7 linked regions of the Homo sapiens genome follow. The protein of the gene in region 3 purifies or fractionates together with the protein of the main gene of each other region. This does not show direct contact. Each region holds a gene or a part of one and is shown on either strand. Other genes may lie near its edges.

Evidence for each region.
Region 1: the proteins of ENTPD7 (region 3) and SPPL2B purify together in Homo sapiens (affinity purification with mass spectrometry; 2 studies listed by BioGRID and IntAct, with this or other methods). This does not show direct contact.
Region 2: the proteins of ENTPD7 (region 3) and ATP2B2 purify together in Homo sapiens (affinity purification with mass spectrometry; 2 studies listed by BioGRID and IntAct, with this or other methods). This does not show direct contact.
Region 4: the proteins of ENTPD7 (region 3) and GOLPH3L purify together in Homo sapiens (affinity purification with mass spectrometry; 2 studies listed by BioGRID and IntAct, with this or other methods). This does not show direct contact.
Region 5: the proteins of ENTPD7 (region 3) and GOLPH3 purify together in Homo sapiens (affinity purification with mass spectrometry; 2 studies listed by BioGRID and IntAct, with this or other methods). This does not show direct contact.
Region 6: the proteins of ENTPD7 (region 3) and ATP2B1 purify together in Homo sapiens (affinity purification with mass spectrometry; one large-scale study listed by BioGRID and IntAct). This does not show direct contact.
Region 7: the proteins of ENTPD7 (region 3) and NDFIP1 purify together in Homo sapiens (affinity purification with mass spectrometry; 2 studies listed by BioGRID and IntAct, with this or other methods). This does not show direct contact.

The regions. Positions count from the first base shown.
Region 1 is NC_000019.10:2,349,184-2,352,683, reverse strand, and holds part of SPPL2B (signal peptide peptidase-like 2B isoform 2 precursor), read right to left. Parts: intron 1,251-3,500; coding exon 1,090-1,250; coding exon of another isoform or gene 1,069-1,089; exon of another isoform or gene 1,027-1,068; intron 1-1,026. UniProt on the Homo sapiens protein: Intramembrane-cleaving aspartic protease (I-CLiP) that cleaves type II membrane signal peptides in the hydrophobic plane of the membrane. Functions in ITM2B and TNF processing.
Region 2 is NC_000003.12:10,338,087-10,341,586, forward strand, and holds part of ATP2B2 (plasma membrane calcium-transporting ATPase 2), read right to left. Parts: intron 2,619-3,500; coding exon 2,407-2,618; intron 2,264-2,406; coding exon 2,156-2,263; intron 273-2,155; coding exon 90-272; intron 1-89. UniProt on the Homo sapiens protein: ATP-driven Ca(2+) ion pump involved in the maintenance of basal intracellular Ca(2+) levels in specialized cells of cerebellar circuit and vestibular and cochlear systems.
Region 3 is NC_000010.11:99,680,009-99,683,508, reverse strand, and holds part of ENTPD7 (ectonucleoside triphosphate diphosphohydrolase 7), read right to left. Parts: intron 1-3,500. UniProt on the Homo sapiens protein: Catalyzes the hydrolysis of nucleoside triphosphates and diphosphates in a calcium- or magnesium-dependent manner. Preferentially hydrolyzes nucleoside 5'-triphosphates, with substrate preference for UTP > GTP > CTP.
Region 4 is NC_000001.11:150,687,155-150,690,654, forward strand, and holds part of GOLPH3L (Golgi phosphoprotein 3-like), read right to left. Parts: intron 1-3,500. UniProt on the Homo sapiens protein: Phosphatidylinositol-4-phosphate-binding protein that may antagonize the action of GOLPH3 which is required for the process of vesicle budding at the Golgi and anterograde transport to the plasma membrane.
Region 5 is NC_000005.10:32,146,820-32,150,319, forward strand, and holds part of GOLPH3 (Golgi phosphoprotein 3), read right to left. Parts: intron 1-3,500. UniProt on the Homo sapiens protein: Phosphatidylinositol-4-phosphate-binding protein that links Golgi membranes to the cytoskeleton and may participate in the tensile force required for vesicle budding from the Golgi.
Region 6 is NC_000012.12:89,702,339-89,705,838, reverse strand, and holds part of ATP2B1 (plasma membrane calcium-transporting ATPase 1), read left to right. Parts: intron 1-3,500. UniProt on the Homo sapiens protein: Catalyzes the hydrolysis of ATP coupled with the transport of calcium from the cytoplasm to the extracellular space thereby maintaining intracellular calcium homeostasis.
Region 7 is NC_000005.10:142,111,779-142,115,278, reverse strand, and holds part of NDFIP1 (NEDD4 family-interacting protein 1), read right to left. Parts: intron 1-3,500. UniProt on the Homo sapiens protein: Activates HECT domain-containing E3 ubiquitin-protein ligases, including NEDD4 and ITCH, and consequently modulates the stability of their targets. As a result, controls many cellular processes.

The sequences.
Region 1 (3,500 bases), on a different chromosome or scaffold from region 3:
CTGGACTACCGTCTCTCGCCCCTGGGCCTGGTCCCCGGCTTCTCCTGAACCTTCTGAAATGCCCATCAGAATGGGGAGACCTTTGGGGTGGGGGTGCTGGCCCCAGGAGACTTCTCCCTGGGGCCTGGTCTCAGGCCATGGTCCCATCTGTGGGACCCATGAGCCCAGCTCGGCACTGGAACCACAGCTCGACCCAATGCATCACACCAGTGCGGCAGGGACGGGTGTGGTTTAACCTCCACAAAAACATGACGTAGGACCCCATGCGCGGCCAGCACCGCTGAGAAGCGCGGCATCTCCCCCAGAGGGAGATCAGCTATGGGAGGAGCTGCACCCATGCCCAACAGCCTGAGGATCGCCCTATGGCGCAGGGCTGCTCCCTGGGCGGTCATGGACTCCAAGAGGCGCTGCCCGGAGGGGCGGGGGCAGCTCTCGGGCGCAATGCGCCTGAGTCCCGGGAACCCAGGAAGTCACCTGAGCGGCACACTGGAAGGGGGGGTCCCACCCACTCCTGTTCACAAAAAATCACAAGAGCAGAACCGACGTGGCGTAAGCCCTCCCTGCATCTCACGTTTAACCCTTGCCAACCACCCCCTGCCTTGCCAAGGGGGACAGGGGACAGGGCTTCCACAGCCAGGGCAGGCCTGCTCCCCTCGTCCAGGGCCCTGCGGCCCCACCCCCAGTCAGGCGCCTCGCTCTCGGCAGGAGAGGCGATGGATGCCCGATGCCCACGCAGGTGGGGCACTACTATTTGGGAGAAGCAACTTTAGAAAGGACATGGCACCCCCGAGTCCCAGCCGGCACCCCCGCGTCCCACCCGGCACCCCTGGGCCCCACCCGGCACCCCCGCGTCCCACCCGGCACCCCCGGGCCCCACCTGGCACCCCCGCATCCCACCCGGCACAGGAGCTGCACGCACGTCCTTCCACCGGGGCCTCACGCGCATGACACCCAAAGCAGAAGGTACCAGGACCCTGAGCCCCGTCGCGGCCGCAGGGCTGGCTGTGGCTGGAGGTCTCACTCAACTTTAACTCTAGTTAGGGCTCACTAGGCGAGTATTTCTCACAGTCAGAGCAAACTGGTATTCACCGCAAAGCCGCTGCCCGTCCAGAACACGCCCAGCTCCCGGCGCCAGAGCGCCACAGCGCAGCTCGTCACCAGCGTGCAGGGCACCAGGTAGAGGAGAGCGGGCTGGCCACGCTGCATCAGGGCCAGTGCCACGAATGTCACAAGGAGGCCAACGCCATAGGCTGTGGGGACAGAGGAGGCATCACCTCAGCCAGGCAGGCCAGGGCCACCACCCATTTCCCTGGGAAGAACGTGAGCGGGCTGGGGTTGGTGGAGGGCAGGGGTGTGCGAGGACGGGAGAGGTACAGTGGGGGTTCAGCCGGCAGGGCCACAGGCTCCCCAAAGTACATGGATCCTTCCGGCACCTCCTGGGCCACAATCCCACCCTGACCCTACCGGAGCCAGGGTCACCGAGGACATGGAAGGGCCAGGGCAAGGAGAGGGACAGGGAGGGGCAGGGTCCGGGCAGCTGCAGGACAGCGGGAGGCAGACGTGATAGCGGAGGGGGCTGCGAGACGTGTCTGGGATGCAGTTTCTATGAACCTCTGAGAAAATCAGCCGAAGGTGACACATGTGCCTGACCAGAAAACCCTTGAACACTGAGCTGTGGGCATATAAACTATGTTCTCAGGAGACACCCAGTGAAATGTTTGGGGTCAAAGGGCACGGTGTCCACCCACCGGGGCCGTGCCCCCAGTCCCCTGAGAACGCAGCCTGTGATTTACATACGTGTGCATGTAAATACACAAACGCACACATGGCCACCCTTGGCACCCGCAGGGGAGGGCTGCCAGGACCCCCTTGCTCATGTCCCTGACGTAAACTGGTGCAGTGTCTGCCTAGAACCCACCCGCGTCCTGCCAAACCATAAATCACCATAGGTTCCTACAAACGCAAACGTGATGTCGCCGCAGGCAATGGCTGTCGCATGGCATTGCTTCGGGAAAACTGGCCCAAAAAATCTGCATGTGTTCAGTACAGATAAGAACACAAATCTTTTCCCCAAATATTTTCAACCTACAGCTAGTGAAATCCACAGCTGCAGGAACCCATGGCTAGTGAGGGCCAACTGCAGTACACGGGGGAGCGTGAGTGTGTGTGTGGAGAGAGAGAGAATGGAATCAAGCGAATGAAAGCGTGAGTGTGTGTGGAGAGAGAGAACGGAATCAAGCGAATGAGAGCGCGAGTGTGTGTGTGGAGAGAGAACGGAATCAAGCGAATGAGAACGCGAGTGTGTGTGGAGAGAGAGAACGGAATCAAGCGAATGAGAGCACGTGAGTGTGTGTGTGGAGAGAGAACGGAGTCAAGCGAATGACAGCGCGTGAGTGTGTGGAGAGAGAGAACGGAATCAAGCGAATAAGAGCGCAAGTGTGTGTGTGGAGAGAGAACGGAATCAAGCCAATGAGAGCACGAGTGTGTGTGGAGAGAGAACGGAATCAAGCGAATGAGAGCGCGTGAGTGTGTGTGGAGAGAGAGAACGGAATCAAGCAAATGAGAGCGCGAGTGTGTGTGGAGAGAGAGAACAGAGTCAAGCGAATGAGAGCGCGTGAGTGTGTGGAGAGAGAGAACGGAATCAAGCGAATGAGAGCGAGTGTGTGTCGAGGGAGAGAACGGAATCAAGCAAATGAGAGCGCGTGAGTGTGTGTAGAGAGAGAACAGAATCAAGCAAATGAGAGCATGTGAGTGTGTGTGGAGAGAGAGAATGGAATCAAGCGAATGAGGGCGCGAGTGTGTGTGGAGAGAGAGAACGGAATCAAGCGAATGAGAGCGTGAGTGTGTGTGGAGAGAGAGAACAGAGTCAAGCGAATGAGAGCGCGTGAGTGTGTGTGGAGAGAGAACGGAATCAAGCAAATGAGAGCGCATGTGTGTGGAGAGAGAGAACGGAATCAAGCGAATGAGAACACGAGTGTGTGTGGAGAGAGAACGGAATCAGGCGAATGAGAACACGAGTGTGTGTGGAGAGAGAGAACGGAATCAAGCGAATGAGAGCGCGTGTGTGTGGAGAGAGAGAACGGAATCAAGCGAATGAGAACACGAGTGTGTGTGGAGAGAGAGAACGGAATCAGGCGAATGAGAACACGAGTGTGTGTGGAGAGAGAGAACGGAATCAGGCGAATGAGAACACGAGTGTGTGTGGAGAGAGAGAACGGAATCAAGCGAATGAGAGCGCGTGTGTGTGGAGAGAGAGAACGGAATCAAGCGAATGAGAACACGAGTGTGTGTGGAGAGAGAGAACGGAATCAGGCGAATGAGAACACGAGTGTGTGTGGAGAGAGAGAACGGAATCAAGCGAATGAGAGCGCGTGTGTGTGGAGAGAGAACGGAATCAAGCGAATGAGAACACGAGTGTGTGTGGAGAGAGAGAACGGAATCAGGCGAATGAGAACACGAGTGTGTGTGGAGAGAGAGAACGGAATCAAGCGAATGACAGC
Region 2 (3,500 bases), on a different chromosome or scaffold from region 3:
GGCCCTGGGGGGCAGCACAAGCACACTCACCTCCATCCCCTGGCCCGCCCCGGCCAGGCCTGGGCCCAGCCCCCAAGAGCCTCCTGTACCTGTGTCTGGATCCGATTCAGGCCTCGGAACCACAGGATCTGGCCCCGCCGCAGCTCCCGCTCCGCGTGGTCGATCTCCTCCACGTCCTCGTTGAGCTCCTCCTCCGGGATCTCCTCCTTCTGTGTGAGCCTGCCTGCCTCCTTGAGGAACTTGAGTCTGCTGGTCGGGATGGTGGCGATGACCTGCAAGGGACCCTGTCTGTCAGGACGGTGGGGCTGTCCTTCCCAGTGGCCTTCTCTCCCTGACACCCGCTCCTCTACCTCCCTCCTCCTACCCGCTCACCCAGGCATGTGATCAATCTACTCCTTCACCCACCTCACCTGTTCCTCAGCCCAGTCTTTGACAATGTCTTTTTTTTTTTTTTTTTTTTTTTTGAGATGGAGTTTCACTCTTGTTGCCCAGGCTGGAGTGCAATTTGCTTTTTAATTCATTCATTCAGAGTCAGGGTACATAGTGGACAATCTTGGCCTCTAGGAGTTGGACAGATGTGGCTTTGAATACCCCAGACAACCCTGGTCCTGTGGCCTCGGGCAAGTCATTTAACCTCACCGAGCTTTGGTTTTCCTAGCTGTAAAGTGGGGGCCGCTCTGGGCATGGTGAGAACTGGGCACGGTGGAGGGTCTAACTCGTCCTGCATGAGCCTGGCCCGTGGCTGGCCCTCGGTTCTCCTGGGGTTACTTATTCCTCTGTCCCTTATTCCTCCTGAGGTCACTGGACCCTGAAGGCAGCCAATCCTGGACTGGGAAGGCAGAATGGGAAAGAGCTATGCCTTCATTCCTAATCTTCCCCAAAAGGCTTGTCCATGGGGCTGAGGACCCAGACGCAGGCCCTACAGGAAAGCTGCGGTGGCAGATATCAGAGGCCCCTTCCATTTCCTGTAGGAGCAGTCAGGCGCTGGCATGAATGCAGCCTCAGGGGGCTCCCTGGGAGTGTAAAGTCAGCACTGCCCGCTGGCATTAACCTTTGTCCTCTGAATCCTTCCCTCAGTTACTGGGCCCAGCCCCCAAGAGCCTCCTGTAGGGGGTGGGCCCCAGTGGGATAAAGATGGCCTGGCCCCCAGGGTGCCCAGGGGTTTATCACTCTCCAAAGCAGCCCCAAAGGTTACAGGAAGTCCTTTTGGATGAAACTAAACTTTCTTATTTATCTTTTAGTTAATTTTTGCCCCCGTAGCTTCTCACTCTAGCCTGCAGACAGCTTGAAGGCAAGAAAAATGCCTCCCACCCATGGGGTCCCACTGCCTGGATGTGTGAGCACCTTGGGAATCAGGCCCCTTAGGCCCTGAGTTGGTTCTGGGCCCTCCTCCCAAGCCCTGTGTCCTGGGTCAGGAGCCTTTGGGCTGCATGCTCTCAGAGCTGTGACAGGGTCTGGAACTTGGGCAAACGTAGAAAAACGAATTGGTGGGAGAATATTCTGGGACAAAGCTGGAAGGGCCCCTAAAGAGCATCCAGCCCAAGGAGCCCCAGAGCTGGGGCAGGCACAGCACTGAGGCCACAGATGGCCACAGGCACAGCACTGAGTAACACCGCAATGTGGCAGAGTGTGTCCTGCTTGCGTTCCCTCTGAGTGCTCTAAAGGATCCTGATTGACGCCAGCCGGCCACCAGCGCCCGCAGACCACTGATTCATCTCCCTTCCTAACAAGCTGCTCCAGCCTTGAATCCCTGGCAGGCCATGGCTTCTAGCTGGAGTTTAATAATGTCATTCTCATTACATTAATGTTTTTGTTAGCTTCCATTTATGACAAGTGATACTGATTTTTCAGTTGTCTTAGTAACAGGACGTTGCCTTTAAAAACAAATTTAAGTTAAAAAAGCTGACGTGATTGAGAGAAAATATTACATAAACAACAGGAGCAGTGGTAGATAGATATAAGGCAAAAATCAGAGCAGTAGTACCCAGACGACCAGTATAGGACCTGGGACAAACCCCCTTGCTCAGATGTCCAGAGATAGGGAGGAGCTTGCCTGGGGTCTGGCAGCCCATTCCTGGGGGTCCTGGATTCTCCATCCAGTGCTGTCTCCCTTGCCCTGCTAACAGGCACCTCCTGCGACCTACCAGGAACTTACCTGGCCCCAAACGAGCTCTCCTAACCCAATGAATATGCACCACATCCACTGGTCCAGCTGCAGTGGAGAGCAGCTGAATGGCTTCCCTCCAAACTGCACGATCACTATCTGGAGGTCACAGGGGAGCAGAGAAAGAGAGAGAGAGAGGCCATCAGGGACCAGCACAGAGGGCTGGGCTCTCAGGGTCCTGCCCAGGGGCTCCAGCCGCTTGCTGCCCACCCCGGGCCTGGTTAGGGTGGGGGCCTCACTACCTGGATGGCAAAGGTGCCCAGCACGATGGTGCAGAAGATGGGGTTCCGGAAGATGCCGTCAAAGACATTGCGCTCGCCGTGGATCTTGCGGGCGTTGATCTCGTTGAAGAGCTGCATCATGACGAAGGTGTTGAAGATGATGGTGTAATGTTCTGAGGGTGGCGAATGCAGGGGCGCGTTCCTCCCGCTGTCGATCTGGAACATCTTCTCGCCTGCCAAGTGAGAGAGTGGGGCTGGGCTGAAGGCAGTGGTGGGGGAATCAGAGGGGAGATGCCTGGCCTTTCGTGGGGGCCTCTTCTGAGCAGTGACGTGAATCCCCAAGACATCAAGGCATGCTTGGACAGTGGGGGGCCAGGGCTGTGCTGTCAGCTGGTCAGAGACTAGGACTGAAGGGTCAGCAAAGCCCTTTCTCCTCTGGGGAAGAAAGGCCTTGGGCAACTGTCTTCCACTTTTTCTGTGGAAACCCGATAAAGGTGGACGGCCGGCTGTGTTAAAGGTGGGCGACATGGCTTCTAAAAAGTGACCTCAGACTGGAAAACTCATTCTGGACTGCGAGGACAGGATACCTGCGGGAGGTTTTGCGCTGCCCCGAGAGTGCTGCTTCTTGTTCCTGAGCATGTCCCTTGCTGAGACCTCTACAAGCTCATGGGGCTGTTACTAGAGATGCCAATTCCTATATGGAGCCCAGGACTTCTGGGCTAGGCTGGCTCTGGACCCTCCCATGTGGCTTCATTCTAACACCTGAGCTGTCACATGGCAGGGCACTGCTGTGTAGACGCTGCTGATAGGGTGTCTGATGCAGTCCTGTATCCTTTTTGTTTTGTTTTGTTTTGTTTTTGAGATGGAGTCTCGTTGTTGCCCAGGCTGGAGGACAGTGGCGTGATCTCAGCTCACTGCAACACCCGCCTCCTGGGTTCAAGTGATTCTCCTGCTTTAGCCTCTCAAGTAGCTGGGATTACAGGTGCGCACCATCACGCCCGGCTAATTTTTGTATTTTTAGTAGAGATGGGGTTTCTCCATGTTGGCCATGCTGGTCTCGAATTCCTGACCTCAAGTGATCCACCCGCCTCGGCCTCCCAAAGTGCTGGGATTAC
Region 3 (3,500 bases):
TATACACAAGTGAAATTTCCTAAAATAAAAATTATTATTTTATTAAACACCACCTTGTATTATGGTGTAATTTTTAAGGGATTTTTTTTAACTGCAAAATAAAAGGGAGGTAGAAAAAATTCTGTTAGTCCAGGCCTTTGGCAAAGAAATAAAACCAAATGCTAATAAATTCAAAATATAGTCTAAATGGTTCAACCCTATTTTGAATCTGCTTACAAATGCTAATAAATTAGCAAACCTTTAATCATACAAAACAGGTTCTTATACTGATAGTCACATTTATGCCAACAACTCGCTTGGACTTAGAGGCAGCAATGATTTTATAAGCCTAGAACAGATGTATGCATTATTTAGAGAGGTGACCAGAAAACAAGTTGAAAGAGAAAAAAAAAAGGCAAATTTCTTTAAAAATTCTTTAGATACAATAAATATTAATATTCAGAGTTTCCACATTGACAACTAACATCTTAGACAAAAAGGGTGGAGCTACACAGTGGGTTTTGTTTGGATGGAAACTTCTTTGACAGAGGTAATACCGAACAGTGCCAGGAGGTGAGGCAACAATCTCCTTTCCTCCAAACACACTAAAGGTAGCCAAACTACCAAGTGGGTTCCTCTGCCCAGCTCAGCTGGTCAATTCTGCCTTTTTAACCTCCAGGTCAGCTTTTTCTCTGGCCTCCCTCCCCTTTCCTTGGCCTTTTATAGACTTTGTGATGTGGCACCTGCTCTTGTGTCATCTATATTCTTCCCAGGGTTTCTAAAATTTTTGAACAATATGAATATCACCTATGTCAAATAAAAATTCTTAATTGCATGCACAGTATGATTGCAACTTTGTGGAAATTACATATATGTGAACAGAAAGGAGGGAATACAACAAAACGAAACAGTTTTGATAGGGTAGCAGGGTTGTAAGTTGTATTGTATTGTTTTGTTCATTTTTAAGATTTCCCTTAAGGAGTTAAGGCTGCAGTTACAATATTTAAAGTTTGGTTTTAAAGATAAGTAAAAACAAAACAAAAAATTTTTTAAAGACTGAAATGTATGGGGCAATAAGGAACTAAAAAACCTCTCATGTTGACAAATGGCTATATAAATAATCTGCTTCTCAACAGTAAACCAGTCAGTAAACCAGTAACTGTGAAAAAAAGTCCACTGAAAGAAGCATTGCTGCTATATGTTATGTTGTCTACATGTCTGACATAAGCCTTGGAGCCCTACATGTATGGCTGAGGTTTTTGTTGTTTGCTGTTGATTTAAGGAAAGAAAGCCAACTATAAAATTTAAACGTTGTAAAAAAAAAAAAAAACTGCTGTTGACCAAAGGAAAATATTTAAGCTAATAAGGAAATACCTGATGCCTATGAGACCATGAACATTCCAGGAGGATGAATTCTAAAGTTAAGGTTGGCAATGGTCTCATTGATATGACACCAAAAGGCACAGGCAACCAAAAATAAACAAGTAAGACTATATCAAACTAAAAATTTCTGTACAGTAAAGGAAAAAATTAACAGAGTAAAAAGGCAAGCTACAGAATGGGAAAAAATATTTGCGAACTATACCTTGGTAAGGGGTTTATCTTTAAAATATTTTAGAAACTCCTACAACTCAACAGCAAAAATCCTATTAACCCAATGTAAAAATGGGCTAAAGACTTGAATAGACATTTCTCCATTCACAGAAATGGCCAACAGGCATATGAAAAGTTGCTCAACATCCCTAGTCATCAGGGAAATGCAAATCAAAACCCCGATGACATATCACCTCACACTTGTCAGGATGGCTGTTATCCAAAAAACAAAAGACAACAAGTGTTGGCAGGGCTGTGGAGAAATTGGAAACTCTGCATACTGCTGGTGGGAATATAAAATGGTGCAGCAGCTCTGCAAAACAGTATGGAGGTTCCTCAAAAAATTAAAAATATAGGCCGGGTACGGTGGCTCACGCCTGTAATTCAGCACTTTGGGAGGCCAAGACGTGCAGACTGCTTGAGCCCAGGACTTCAAGAACAGCCTGAGCAACATGGCAAGACCCCATCTCTACAAAAAAAAATACAAAAAATTAGCCAGGCATGGTGGCACATGCCTGTGGTCCCAGATACTTGGGAGGCTGAGGTGGGAGAATCACCTGAGCCTGTGAGGTGGAAGTTGCAGTGAGCCGAGATCATGCCATTGCACTCCAGCTTGGGCAACAGAGCGAGACCCTGTCTCAGTAAATAAATAAATAAATAAATAAATAATCAAACTGTCATATGATCCAGCAATCCTACTTCTGGCTAATTATTCCAAAGATTTAAAATCAGGATCTCAAAGAGATATGAGCCCTCCCATGTTCACTGAAGCATTATTTACAATAACCAAGATGTGGAAACAACCTAAATGTTCACTGACAGATGAATATGTAAAGAAAACATGGTACATACACACAGTGGAATACTATTTAGACTTTTTTAAATAAAAAAGGGCATTCTGCAATATGTGACAAGGTGGATGAACACTAACGACAATATGCTAAGGGAAATAAATAGGCACAAAATTTCAGTTAAGCAAGATGAATAAGCACTGAAGATCCACTGTACAACACTGTACACACAGTCAACAATAACGTATTGTATACTTAAAAATTTGTTGGGCCAGACATGGTAGCTGACGCTTGAAATCCCAGCGCTCTGGGAGGCTGAGGCAAGCGGATCACTTGAGCCCAGGAGTTCTAAACCAGCCTGGGCAACATGGTGAAACCTGGCTCCACAAAAATTAGCTGGGTGTGATGGTGCCCACCTGTAGTCCCAGCTACTTAGGAGGCTGAGGTGGGAGGATCACTTGGGCCTGGGGGGCAGAGGTTGAAGTGAGCTGTGATCACACCACTGCCCTCCAGCCTGGGCAACAGAGCAGACCCTGTCTCTAAAAAAAAAGAAAAAAATCTGGTTAGAGGGTAGCTCTCATGTTGTATGCTTACCACAATAAAATAAAAATCATTAAAAAAAAAGTCAGGGAGCTCATTCTTCCCCCGGCCTACGTAAGTATGGACGGATCAAGGTGGTACCAAAGGAGAGAAATCACAAACAAGGAGTCTGGCCTAAATACAGCCTTCTCTTCCTCTTCCTCTAATGCAGGAAGAGGGATCAGGTGGCAAGGTGTCAGGCTGAATTGCAAAGGTCAAGTGGAAATGATGTGACTGGCTGGGGCTGAGAAAACAGGCCTAAGGCAATGGAGACTGAGCTTTGCAGTAGCAGCAAGAAGAGGGACTCCCCCAGTTATTGCCAGGGTTCTAGGCAGAGTTACAGAAAAGGTAGTGTTCCTACCAGAGCTCTCTGACTAGTCCCTAAGTATCCAGGTCATCAGGTGACCCTCTTCCTAATTTATTCTGTAATTATGTTCTCTATGTGCCCGATGATCCAAATCTATTACCATCACCACTACTCCCAACCCTCAATCCAAACTAAGAATCACTATAGTCATCCCAGATAGATACTGATCCCAAAGCAGCAAATGACAAGAA
Region 4 (3,500 bases), on a different chromosome or scaffold from region 3:
CGGCCTGCTATTAATATTTTAATTATAATAAAATGCTTTAGGATTGAGTCACTTTTTAAGGCGGCCAATTTTCTTCATTCATAGCCAATAATCAACAAGTTGGACACTGACTGACTGTGACTGATTTTAAAAACCTTTTTGGGCTGGGCGTGGTGGCTCACATCTGTAATCCCAGCACTTTGGGAGGTCGAGGCAGGCGGATCACCTGAGGTCAGGAGTTCGACACCAGCCTGGCTAACGTGGTAAAACCCCGTTTCTACTAAAAATACAAAAAATTAGCCGGGCGTGGTGGTGCATGCCTGTAATCCCAGCTACTTGGGAGGCTGACACAGGAGAATTGAACGCGGGAGGCAGAGGTTGCGGTGAGCCAAGATCGTGCCACTACACTCTAGCTTAGGTAACAAGAGCGAAACTCTGTCTCAAAAAAAAAACAAAAAAAAACTTTTTGATTAGTGAATTTTTTTTACCAGCTTTAAAGAAGCTTTTACTTCTAATCTCCTATTGCTAATAAAGATGAACTATACTTGATGGAGGATCATCAGCAGCTTGAAAAAGCGTAGCATTAACATACTTTATAATTAAAAATACATATGAATTTCATACGTATAATTCCCATACGTATAGTGGATAACAGTAGATTGTTTGAAAAAAGATAACTGACAAGTACCAGGAGAATTTTAGCAGCACTGTTCATAATGAACTCTTGAATGTGCATTAACCCATAGAATGAATAGTGGTATATTCATGTAATGAAATATTAATCAGGATGAACTGGATTAAACTATATGCAACAACATGGACAAATCTCACAAACATTATATTGATCAAAAGAATACATTAAAATATTAACCCAATAAAATAGAGTTTAAAAACAGGCAAAACTAAAATATATTGTTTAGGGATATACATACATGTCAAAACTACAGGGAAGTGGGCAGCATGTGATTAGGGGCAGGCATAAGAGAAGCCTTCCAGGATGCTGATATTGTTCTATTGGTGATTACATGACTGTTGGCTTTCAAACTACTTGTTAAACTGTATATATGTGCTTTATACAATTTTCTGGATACACTGTATTTCACAATTTTAGAAAACTTAAACAATAAAGCATGTAACTGGATGTTCAGCTCTCATACTTCAGTTTTAAAACACTGGAGTTCATTAAAAGGAGATGGGATGCTTTCAGACATCTGTGGTTATTCCAGTTGCACATCACTGAAATTATTAGGAACATCCAGTTGATGTTCTTTTTTCCTAGAACCTGTCTCTTTACAGACTAACTCACTCTTATTCCAGTTAAGAGTTATTACCTCCTGGCGGGGCGCAGTGGCTCACACCTGTAATCCCAGCACTTTGGGAGGCCAAGGCAGTTGGATCACCTGAGGTCAGGAATTCAAGACCAGCCTGGCCAACATGGTGAAACCCCGTCTCTACAAAAATACAAAAATTAGCCGGGGATGGTGGCAGGTGCATGTAATACCAGCTACTTGGGAGGCTGAGGAAGCAGAATCGCTTGAATCCGGGAGGTGGAGGTTGCAGTGAGCCAAGATCACGCCACTGCTTTGCAGCCTGGGTGACAGAATGAGATTCTATCTCAAACAAACAAACAACAAAAAAAAGAGTTATCACCTCCTGTAAGTCTTTCCCAACATCTCTTCTTCCCTCTCCTACTGCTCCTTCCCACCACCCATCTGATTTACGTGCTTTTCCTCTGTGTTTCCTTCCTACTCAGAACACACTTATACACATATCACATTGTTCTGAAATGGTCTGCTGACTTTCTGGCTTCTACTCCCAGCATCTCCAACCATCCCTATGCCACTAAACCATAAATTGACCTCAAAAGCAGGGACAATTGTTTTTGTTCTCTCTTTCTATGACATATGAGTCATTCAATAAAATTTTTGGTGATTAAACAAATAAGTGAAAATGTATTGCCATATTTCCAATGGATAATACTTCTTGCCAATTTTTACCACAGTGACATGAGAAATATGATGAAAAGCTTTTCTTTCACAGTAAGTAGTAAGTATTCAATAAATGGCATTACTAGGAGAAAGCTTTCCAAGAAAGAGAGGATGGTTGAAAAACATTATCCACAAATTAAATAGATGAGAAATGAAAAGACCACTAGGAGTCAAAAGCAGTAATTGGCTTACTCCCCTTACAGGTAACTTAAGAAACGATTCTAATAAATGAAAAGTTTTATACATTAGCAAGTCAATTAAAACACTGTTCATGAGTTAATAATCTATATCAAAACTCTTACCAAAGGCAATAATAACAAATAAGCAGATTCCTGATTTCAACAGGAGATAAACCTATTTTATTTTGGTCAGGCTTGTGCTCAATGTTTACTTTCTCAGTTGAGGTCAGTGTTATTGAACTGAGATAGTATCTAATTTTAACTGTGCTTGAAAGGTTATACTCTTCAAATTATATTTAAATTTCTTGATTGTTTTCATAAGACAATGATACTTAATATTTAATTTAATTAGTTTATATTTTTTGAGGCAGTCTTACTCTGTCACCCAGGCTAGAGTGCAGTAGTGTGACCTTGGCTCATTGCAGCCTCTGCCTCTTGGGTTCAAGAGATTCTCCCATCAGCATAGCTAGGATTACAGGTGCATGCCACCACACCCAGCTAATTTTTTTTTTCCTTTAGTAGAGATGGGGTTTCACCATGTTGGCCAGGCTGGTCTCGAACTCCTGGCCTCAAGTGATTTGCCCGCCTCAAACCTCCCAAAGTGCTGGGATTATAGATGTGAGCCACTGCGTCTGGCCAGATGCTTAATATTTTAAAACCAGTCTGTGGTAGTTACCCCTCAGAAGAATTTTTTTTTTTCTTTTAAGACAGGGTCTCACTCTGTCACCCAGGTTGGAGTACAGTGGCACAAACACAGCTCACTCCAGCCTTGAACTCCTGGGCTCAAGCAATCCTCTCGCCTCAATCTCCCAAGTAGCTGAAACTGCAGGTATGTGACACCATGCCAGGCTAATTTTTATATTTTTTGTAGAGATGAGGTCTCACTATGTTGCCCAGGTTGGTCTAGAATTCCTGGCCTCAGGCAATCCTTCTGTCTCCCAAAGTGCTGGGATTACAGACAGGAGCCACCGTGCCTGCTTGAAAGACACATAGTTTCTAAAAAAATGATAATACTGGGTTCTAAACAGAGGATCTTAGGGAACTCTCCAGTAAAAGTTTGGGAGTTTGGGACACAAAATTTAACATTTAGGATTTTTTCCTTTTTTGACTTGTCACAAATCCCAAACCATGTAAAAACAAGCAATTATATACACATTAAAACATACTCACAAAGAACATAAAAATGTTATTAAGCCCTTAATTTGGACACAAAAATGAAATGGGCTTTGCTGTTTTCATTAGGCTGATTCTCTTTTCCCTAAAGGAAAGAGTCTAAAAGTCTCTGCCTGGTAACAAAATCTATAATCTGGTCCAAATCGAATTTACTGATTTTGAATCCCATTGTTCTCCACCT
Region 5 (3,500 bases), on a different chromosome or scaffold from region 3:
TCTTTTGGCTTCCCTGGGCCATACTGGAAGAATTATTATCTTGGCCCACACATAAAATATACTAACACTAATGACAGCTGATGAGCTAAAGAAAACAAAAAAAAAAACCTCATGTTTTAACAAAGTTTACAAATTTGTGCTGGACCAGATTCAAAGCCGTAGGCCACCTGCGGCCCACAGGCCACGGGTTGGACAAGCTTGATCTAAAGTGTAATCTTATTTTGAAGTTACATAAATATTAATACGTATGTATATCATAGGTTTGTATTTACAAAAAAACTTATAAATGTTCACATCCTTTGACACAATTCTTATGGGCCTTTAGTTAGAAAATACTGTGCACAAAAATATATGTACAAATATATTGATCACATCATTATCATAGTAAAACACAAAAACAATCTAAAAGCAAAAAAAAGGGAATAAACTCAGCACTTCCCAAACTTTCCTGACCTTGAAGCATTTTAATTTACAGTATACTTTTAACAGCCTACAGAATATTACAATTCTATGAAAATCAGTTTTAAAAATCCTGGTGCAGGAGGCGGAGGCTGCAGTGAGCCGAGATTGCACCACTGCACTCTAGCCTGGTGACAGAGCAAGACTTCATCTCAAACAAAAAAAAAAAGAAAAGAAATCCTGGTGCAGAGGTTATTACAAAACATGAAAAATTATTATGAAATCGTGTGTGTGTGTGTAGAGAGACAGAAAATAGTCCCATTTTTTAGGGAGATTAGAAGAAAAGTTTTAGCAGCAGTAATGTCTGGTGATTATGGTGATCTTTATTTTCTTTAGGCTTTTCTGTATATAGTAAAGGAAAACTCGTGGCAAGGAGATAAGTAAGGTTTTCCTTACTGATCAACTATAGTTATAGTTGTTCAAGCTTAAAAGGCAATAGTTATGATAGTGGCAGTAATTTGACAGAGGCAAAACACTAGAAGAACTAAAAACTCTCCATGAAAATAACTATGAACCACAAAGTAAAACATATTTGTGAAGTAGTAAAGAACTGTGCTCAAGAGCCCAGACCGCACAAACACCTGGCGATTCAAATCAACTCCAGCTCTACCACATACTATATAGTTAAATTTCTGAGACTAGTTTTCTTCATATAAAACAAGTTGTGAAGATTAAATAATATATATAAAGCACAACCCCTGGCAATTAGTAATTACTTAATTATGTACAATTAGAATGGAATGGGGATGGAGGACTGCAAACTCAGTTACTTAGAAAGTACAAAGAACATGACTGAATAAAGAGACCCAGGTGTGGATTGCAGCAAGCTGGACAATGTCCTCTTCCATCTATCTGGGGAAGACAGCTTAGCCCTTATCAACTGTTGCCATGTAAAATGTGGGCCTGCTCTTGCCACATCTTTTTCAAGAGGGCAGAAACGTCCGTTTCTATATATTACTTCCATCTTTGAAAGGATTACAACTCAAGTTTTACTAAACAAAACATATCTGGCAAACCAGTTTGCAACCGCTAAACATTTTACAAAACATACTACGTTATATGAATGTTCAGTTACTAGTAGTCTGTATAGGCATAAAGTACTCAAAATAGTTTCATTTTGTTTTTATGTACAAAATATTTCAAAATGAAATCACTAAAAACACTATATTTTCTATATAAGGTTGAATTCTGGTGTGACCAATGTTTTGGAAATGGCTTTCTAATAGAAATATAGGCCAGGTCCACATGGTGGCTCACGCCTGTAATCCCAGCACTTTGGGAGGCCAAGGTGGGCAGATCACGATGTCAGGAGATCGAGACCATCCTGGCTAACACGGTGAAACCCCATCTCTACTAAAAATATAAAAAATTAGCTGGGCGTGGTGGTGGGCACCTGTAGTCCCAGCTACTCGGGAGGCTGAGGCAGGAGAATAACGTGACCCCAGGAGGCGGAGCTTGCAGTGAGGCGAGATCGCGCCAATGCACTCCAGCCTGGGCAAGAGAGCAAGACTCTGTCTCAAAAAAAATAAAAAATACAAAATACAAAATTACCCAGGCGTGGTGGCGCATGCCTGTAATCCCAGCTACTCAGGAGGTTGAGGCAGGAGAACTGCTTGAACCTGGGAGGCAGAGGTTGCAGTAAGCTGAGATCGCACCACTGCACCCCAGCCTGGGCAACAAGAGCGAAACTCCATCTCAAAAAAAAAGAAAAAAAGAAAGGTGATTGTACTTGCCAAATCTAAATGGACCAGGATGAACAAATTAAGTCTCCCTCCTGAGTATCTGAACTTGCCATACTGAATCAGTTATATGGGCATGGCACTGGAGCTGTACTGGCTGTGTGGATTCAGAAGCTACTGGCCATTGGGTACAAATGCAGAGAATGAAGGTAACAGAAAGGAAAACAGAAGACAAATGCAGAGTAGAAATGAGAGAGGATGCAATGTGAGGCAAACCAAGACATACAGAGACAGAGAGGCAGACAGGCACATACACGGAATAGCATGTTTGTTGTTTTAACCTGCTATGTTTTGTTATGCAGTAAGATAATTAATACAGTGGGTGCCCAGGGCTGGCAAAATGGGAAAAGGGAGAGGTAATGGCTAAAGGGGATGAGCTTTCTTTTGGAAGTGATAAAAATATTCTAAAATTGATTATGGTGGTGGTTGTACAAATCTGAAAACCTTGAATTGTACACTTCAAATGACAATTATATGGCATATGAATCATATCTCAGAGCTGTTACAAAAAAACATTCTATAAAGTCACTTCTGAAATCTTACATGAAATTTTGATTATGTCAAAAATTAAGAATCAAAAAGTTCTTGACAAAAATAACTAATCAAGAGAATGAAGGTGACTTCAGGTAAAAGCAGATTAAAAAGACTAGACAAGAAAAGGTATCTACAGATATAAGAACTGTTAAAGAAGTAGTAAGGCTGGGCACTGTGGCTCACGCCTGTAATCTCAGCACTTTAAGAGGCCGAGGCGGGCAGATCACCTGAGGTCACGAGTTCAAGACCAGCCTGGCCAAGGCGGCAAAACCCCATCTCTACTAAAAATACAAAAATTAGCCAGGTGTGGTGGCTCATGCCTGTAATAGCAGCTACTCGGGAGGCTGAGGCAGGAGAATCGCTAGATCCTGGGAGGCAGAGGCTGCAGTGAGCCACTGCACTTCAGCCTGGGCAAAAGAGTGAAACTGTCTCAAGAAAAAAAAAAAAAGTAGTAAAACTGCATTTGCTGGTGATATTGTTGGATATTTAGAAAAACTCATAAGAGTAAATGGAAAAATTACTATAGATAGGAGTTTAGTAAAGTAGCCAGATTATATAAAATTAAACACCAGTTGTCATATACAAACAAAATACACATGTTAAAATACTAAAAAGTTAAAATATAATTGAAAAGACCTTTACAACAGCAACAAAAAGAACAAAAAATACCATGGCAAAACCTATATGAAAAGTTTAAAGTCTCTTGAAAGACTTAAAAATAGACTTGAATAATAGAAAGATATTTCATTCTTATATACAAAGTCTCAG
Region 6 (3,500 bases), on a different chromosome or scaffold from region 3:
GATAAGTCTTTATTAAACTAAAATTAGCCAAAAACTCTGAGATGAAAGGTGTTTTATCCCCTTACTGCTATGTGTTCTCTGTCGAACTATGGAATATGGCCCCGGGATAAAGGACATTATTTGAGCTATTAGATTGTTGCATGTAGAGTAATTATATGTTGTTATATATACTTTCATAGATTCCTTGATTTCAGAGTAAGATTTACTAATTTCCTTTGACTGACAGACATGTTAACTTCATTTCAGATGCAACAGTCTCTTACCATGGGAAATGAGTTTTAAAAGGAACGGCCACTTATAACTATTGGTCTTCTGTAATATTGAACAAAATAATATTTGGTTTTTTTCCCTTACATTTTACACATGAATACAGTAAAATTGATGTTTTCACTTTTTTATTCTGGAATTTTGTAATGGATGAGCAAAAAACAATAAAAGGACTGAGGATCAGAAAGCAGAAACAAACATTTAGGTTTTTGCATCTCGGGCAAGAGTATTGACCAGATGGAAGGGAATAATTATTTTCTAGTAGCTGTCATGATATGTAATAAAGGTACTAATAGTAGCTTATTTGGGACTAGGTGGAATCTGAGGTGACATTGCCAGGAAAATAACATACAATGGTTATGGGAATAATTTTCATAAAGATAAATAACTTTAAAAAATTCACTTTTTAGCTTTTAGAAATGTTATCTATACATACCACATATATTGTTGTCTTGTTAAAATTTTTTATTATAGAAATTATCAAACATAGGAAAGTAGAGAGAATGATATACTTACTGGCCAGTTTTGACAATTACCAACTCTCGTGGTCCATCACATTTCATTTATATCTTAACACAAGAAATGGTTCTGTTATAAATGGGGACATAGGACAGGTAATCGAATCGAATTTTTGTATTTGTATTTTTCAGAATACGGTATACTCAATAGTGTCCAATATCTAATTAAATCTGAATGGTCAGTTTTTATGTTCTTCGTTGATTCTTTAGTGGCATATACATTTTAATTTTTCTGGTGGTAGTTTGTGTATTTTACAGCAGGTGCCCAAAGATAGTGTCTCTCAAATTTTGCTGTCTTCAGAAATCACAGGTATTATTATTAACTACTTTACAGTTTTCAGAATGTATTTACATATGACCTCATTTGATTCTCACAATAATCCTGTGTGGTGAGTAAGGCAGACAATTGTACTTTTTTTTGTTTTTTGTTTTTTGTTTTTTTTCTGGTAGGCAAAGTGATTTGTCTAGGCCCTAAGGTCATATAGCTAGCAGCTTTTTTAGCCCAAACTGGACTTTAGGTGGCTTCTAGATTTTGCTCATTGCTCTTCTCATTATACACGTTTATGTAAGTTTATGAAAGTTATGTATGGAAAATCAGTTTTGATCAGAGTAAATTTAATAGAGAAATATGAATGGGTTTGTTTGGGTTGAGCTTTATAAATTTAATCATTACTTATATTTGGTGTAATACAAACAGTTTGTGTTTTGATTTACTTAACAGCTGAGTGAATGTGAACGTATCTGAAATACTATATTTTTAATATTGTGGATTTTTTTAAGTTAGGAATTTTGATTTCAAAGAACTGTTGGCCTAGGGGTGTCTTAAATCTTGAATAAAAATAAAATGTGCTGTACTAAAAGTTTCTTCTTTAAATTTCTGCTGTAACTTTTTATGCACTTGTTTTTATACTATAACATGTTTATTACCTAAATCTCTTTGAAATATTCATTTGTTCTGTAATGAAATTTAGTTTAAAAGGTTCCAAATGAGGAGGTTTTAGTTCCTGAAATCCAAAACCTGGTTATAAATCTCACAAGAAAGGTGTGGTTCTCCAGCATTAATGTGCATGAAGAATCACCTGGGGGAGTTACTGAAAGTGCAGATTCCTTGGCATTGCCCCTGGAATTTTGATTCAGCAGATTTGAGGTGGGGCCAAATGCTACAGTAGTCTGCATTTTGAGAAACATTGACATTGCATTTATAACTAAGTTAAAGTTACATGGTAGAGATACCTAAATCAGTAGCAAAGTTTGATTTGTTGATGTCGATGGTTTTTGTGACAATCCTAGAACTGATAAATTGAAAATATTTCTGTTATCTATGTATGCCCAGTCTTTCAGAAGATCCATCTGTGGTTACTTAAGTTACTTATTAAGCACTGTAAACTATTAGAGAATGTTCTTTTATTTTCATGTCTTAATGTCTGCCATTTTCAAATGACTTAGACACCAGAGTTTATATTCATAAAAATAATGCATGCTGTATCCTTACAGTAGTGTGTGTTTATCCTTTAGTCTAGCTCTTTGTTAGAAGAAAAGATCGGATATTCCTTCAGACTAAAAGGACATAAGTTAGTGGATAGATAGCTCTCTTTAATTTTAGTTAACAAGCAGTTGCTCTTTCAAAAACAGCAAGTAGATCTTCCAAGAATATTAGTGATAGCATACTAATTGATAATTTACTATTTTATGCATTAAAACAGAAGTTACTGCTGTCTCACTTAAATGTTAAATAACCGTTTGTGTAGTTCACCAATCTACTCTGACTTTTGGAACTATTTTATCTAATACCATATCCACGTGAATTACCTGCCTTTAATAATTTTCCTCTTTAAGACCAGTTTTGAAATGCAGTTGTTTTTTGCTTCATTTATAACAGTATAGCAAATAGCCTGTATCTGCATTTAAAATATATTTTATAATAAAATTAATTTCAAAGCAGGTTCATCTCAAGACTGTTGGGAACCTGTTTTTGTTTGTTCCAAAACTTAGTCTTGTTGGCTACACCTTAAGGTTTATTTAGGAATCATAGCTTGTAATTTACTAAAGCTTATGGTAATCTAAATTAATAAATATTTTTGGCAGAGAGGTCCAAATAAACTGTGGGCACATTTTTTTTTGCCATATTTTTAAAAGCTATTTTCTATTAAATTTTTCCTAGGACAGTGTCAGCTATTCCAAATCGTATGTGGTGTTTTTAGTTATAAGAATATTTGGTATTTCTAAGTACAGTGACTTCCAACAATATGGTTTCTTAAAATATGGGATACCTGCTTTTGTAGTAATACTACTGTCACCTGGGCCTCTGAGGGAACAAATAAAGGTAGTGTTGAATGGACCAATGCTTGCTTACACTGTGAAATCTGAGATTACACTGCCTAACTGTAAACTGGCATGACTACTGTACAGACCTGATAAATTTAGGAGTCAAATTTATGTTTTCTGAAAAAAATAGGTCTTAAAGAAGATTTGACTGTTTAACTTGAAAGATGCTTTTTAAATACTTTTTTATTAACAATGTGGATCTATTATTCATTGTATTAACCCTGTGAGTGAGTTCTCTCTCAGGAGGATTTTAAATAATAATCTTGTACTCTCAAAACTCTCAGATCTGCTGCTTTAATCTACCTTTCATATTTGTGCCAGAATTTTCTTTTGTTTTTCAATAACCTATTTTAAACCACAGTTTCTTCACTAAAACTTTCATCTTTTTTT
Region 7 (3,500 bases), on a different chromosome or scaffold from region 3:
TATAATTCTTCTAAGCTGTTGTACTTGCTTAAAGGTAAAACAAGAACATTTTAAGAAACCAAAATAATTATTTTAAAGCCCTAAAAACAAATAAATCTGAGGATGTCACTTGAATCTCTTGGAGACTTTTTTTCTTTCTTAATAAAAATATGAAGTTATTCTCATGGTAGGATTTACTTTATAATCTACCATAAAATTATGAAATATAATTAATGTCTAGGATAAAACAATTTGAAGTTATGTGCAGTTAAACTACTGGTGGCATCAGCTTAGAGCAAAATTCCCTAGAGCAGTTCAACTGGGCCTTGGTTTCTGCCCAAACCAGGAAGCACTGCCCTATTTTCAGGACACAGATAGTATGATTAAGCCAAATAAATCTTGCCTAACAAGTGGTCACCCATGGGATCAGGTAAGAAAACAAGGATAGATTAACAGGAATCTATCACTGCTACAAAAACAAAGCATGAGGCTTGGCAAGAGTGAGCCCAATCAATACAAAGGACAGTTAGTTATGGATCCACAGCCCGACACTGACAAATCCTGTTTCCATACTCCTCACAGATTACAAGAGAGCTCTCATGATATATTCCTCATGTGATATCTTCTTGAAATATCATACCATTTGTTTTCTTTTAGCGTTACACATAGAAATATTTATCAATATATGATTTCTAGGATTCGTTTCAAAATAATGTGGTGAGTATAAGTGAAATAATATTGGCCATTCATTCACAATTGCTGAAGCTGGGTGATGGTACATAAAATTTCTTACACTACTTTATTATTGTATGTGTTTGAAATTTCCATAGTAAAAAGTTGAAAATGTAAACATCATGAAGAAATTACTCCTACAACTCGACAACAAAAAACTCAATTCAAAAATGAACAAAGAACATGAATACACATTTTCTCTAAAGAAAATATCAATGGCCAATAAGCACATGAAAAGATGCTCAACATCGCTAATTATTAGGGAAATAGGGATCAATACTGCAATGAGATACCACTTCACACCCATTAGATGGCTACTATCAAAAAAACAAAAACAAAAAAGAGAACATAACAAGTATGTTGAGGATATGGAGAAATTGGAATCCTTATGCATTGTTGGTGGGAAAATAAAATGGTGAAGCTGCCATGGAAAACAGTATGGGAGTTTCTCGAAAACTTAAAAATAGAATTGCCGTATGACCCAGCAATTCCATTTCTGGGTATATCCAAAAGAACTGAAAGCAGGGACTTGAAAGATATTTGTAGACTCATGTTTTTTATAGCAGCATTACTCACAATGACCAAAAGGTAGAAGCAAACCAAGCATCCGTCAACAAATGAATGCATAAACAAAATGTGGTACATATATAAAATGGACTATTATTCAGCCTTAAAGAGGCAGGAAATTCTGACACATGCTACAACATGGATGAACTCTGAAGACATTATGCTAAGTGACATATGCCAGTCACAAAAGGACAAATCCTGTCTAATTCCACTTATGAGAGGTACCTACGGTAGTCAAATACATAGAAAGTAGAATGGTGGCTTCCAGGGGCTGGAGGAGGGGGAATGGAGAGTTATTGTTTAATGGATATGGAGTTTCAGTTCTGCAAGGTGACAAAGTTCTGGAGATGGACTGGTTCCACAACAATGTGAATGTACTTAATGCCACTAAACTGTATACTTAAAAGTGGTTAACATGGTAAATTTTATGTGTATTTTACCACAATTAAAGTTTTCAAAGGAATAATTTACCCATCTTCCTAATATTTTTATAAATTTTCTTTGATCACTGACCATGTAGGCCACAAATACAGCATATAACTTAAGAAACTTTGACATTTAGGTTATGTTGGCATTCTGTGATATAACTTCTTTTGAAACTGAAAAATAAGCAAAAAAGCCACATAAGCACTATTCATTCCTTCCTCCAGGATCATTACTTCATCTAATAATTTAACATGAATATGGTTTGACCTATCAGAGATGAAATTCTTATGCTCATCAAAATATTCCTCCATAATCCTGAGAGAATTTATCCAAAAGTATACCATTCCAAAATCTGCACTATAATGTCATCAAACTATCATACAGAGTATTGGTGATGCTCACAAGTGGGCAACTTCTTTAGCAGGTAATGAGGCAAGTCCAGAACTAAACATTCTGTAATCTGTTTGAACCTACATGGCAGTGTCATCATCACCCACTTACATTGAATTCAAATCCAAGTATCCCAAAATACTTGAAATGAATTGGCAAAATTCATGCACACATCTACCGCAGAAGATCTGCGTTCATCTATGGATGAACGGGAGTTAACGTCCTCAGAGAGAGAAACACGCAACAGGTTTCTCAGCACTCAGTATGGGCCTACTTAGGTCTTTCTAAAATAGTGCTTCCATACTGTCTGAGACAGTCTCAGTTTCAAAAGGCAAAAATGAAAAAAAAAATAAAATAATGCCAGGGGAACCTATAAGCCTAGCCTCTTTTTTTTTTTTTTGGACAGAGTCTCACTTCGTCGCCCAGCCTGGAGTGCAGTGGCGCGATCTCGGCTCACTGCAATCTTCACCTCCCGGGTTTCTCCTGCCTCAGCCTCCCGAGTAGCTGGGACTACTACAGGCACGTGCCACCACGCCCAACTAATTTTTTGTATTTTTAGTAGAGATGGGGTTTCACCATGTTAGCCAGGATGGTCTCGATCTCCTGACCTTGTGATCCGCCCACCTCGGTGCCTTTTTTTTTTTTTTTTTTTAAGACAGTCTTGCTCACCCAACCTGGAGTACAGTGGCGCGATCCCAGCCTACTGCAAACTCTGCCTCCTGGGTTCAAGTGATTTTCCTGCCTCAGCCTCCCAAGTAGCTGGAGTTACAGATGTGCACCACCACACCGTGCTTTTTTTTTTAAACAGAGTCTTGCTCTGTCGCCAGGCAGGAGTGCAGTGGCACGATCTCAGTTCACTGAAACATCTGCCTCCCAGGTTCAAGCGATTCTCCTGCCTCAGCCTCCTGAGTAGCTGGGACTACAGGTGCACGCCACCACGCCCAGCTAATTTTTGTATTTTTAATAGAGATGGGGTTTCACATGTTGGCCAGGATGGTCTCAATCTCTTGACCTCGTGATCTTTGTGATCTGCCTGCCTTGGCCTCCCAAAGTGCTGGGATTACAGGCATGAGCCACCTTGCCTGGCCATTTTTTGTTTTGTTTTGTTTTGGTTTTTTTTGAGACAGTCCCACTCTGTCACCCAGGCTGGGGTTCAGTGGCACAATCTTGGCTCACTGCAACTTCTGCCTCCCAGGTTCAAGCAATTCTCCTGCCTCAGCCTCCCAAGTAGCTGGGATTACAGGTGAGTGCCACCACACCTGGCTAATTTTTGTATTTTTAGTAGAGGCAAGGTTTTGCCATGTTGGCCAGGCTGGTCTCGAACTCCTGACCTCAAGTGATCCGCCCACCTCGGCCTCCCAAAGTGCTGTGATTACAGGTGTGAGCCACCACACCTGGTTGAGCCT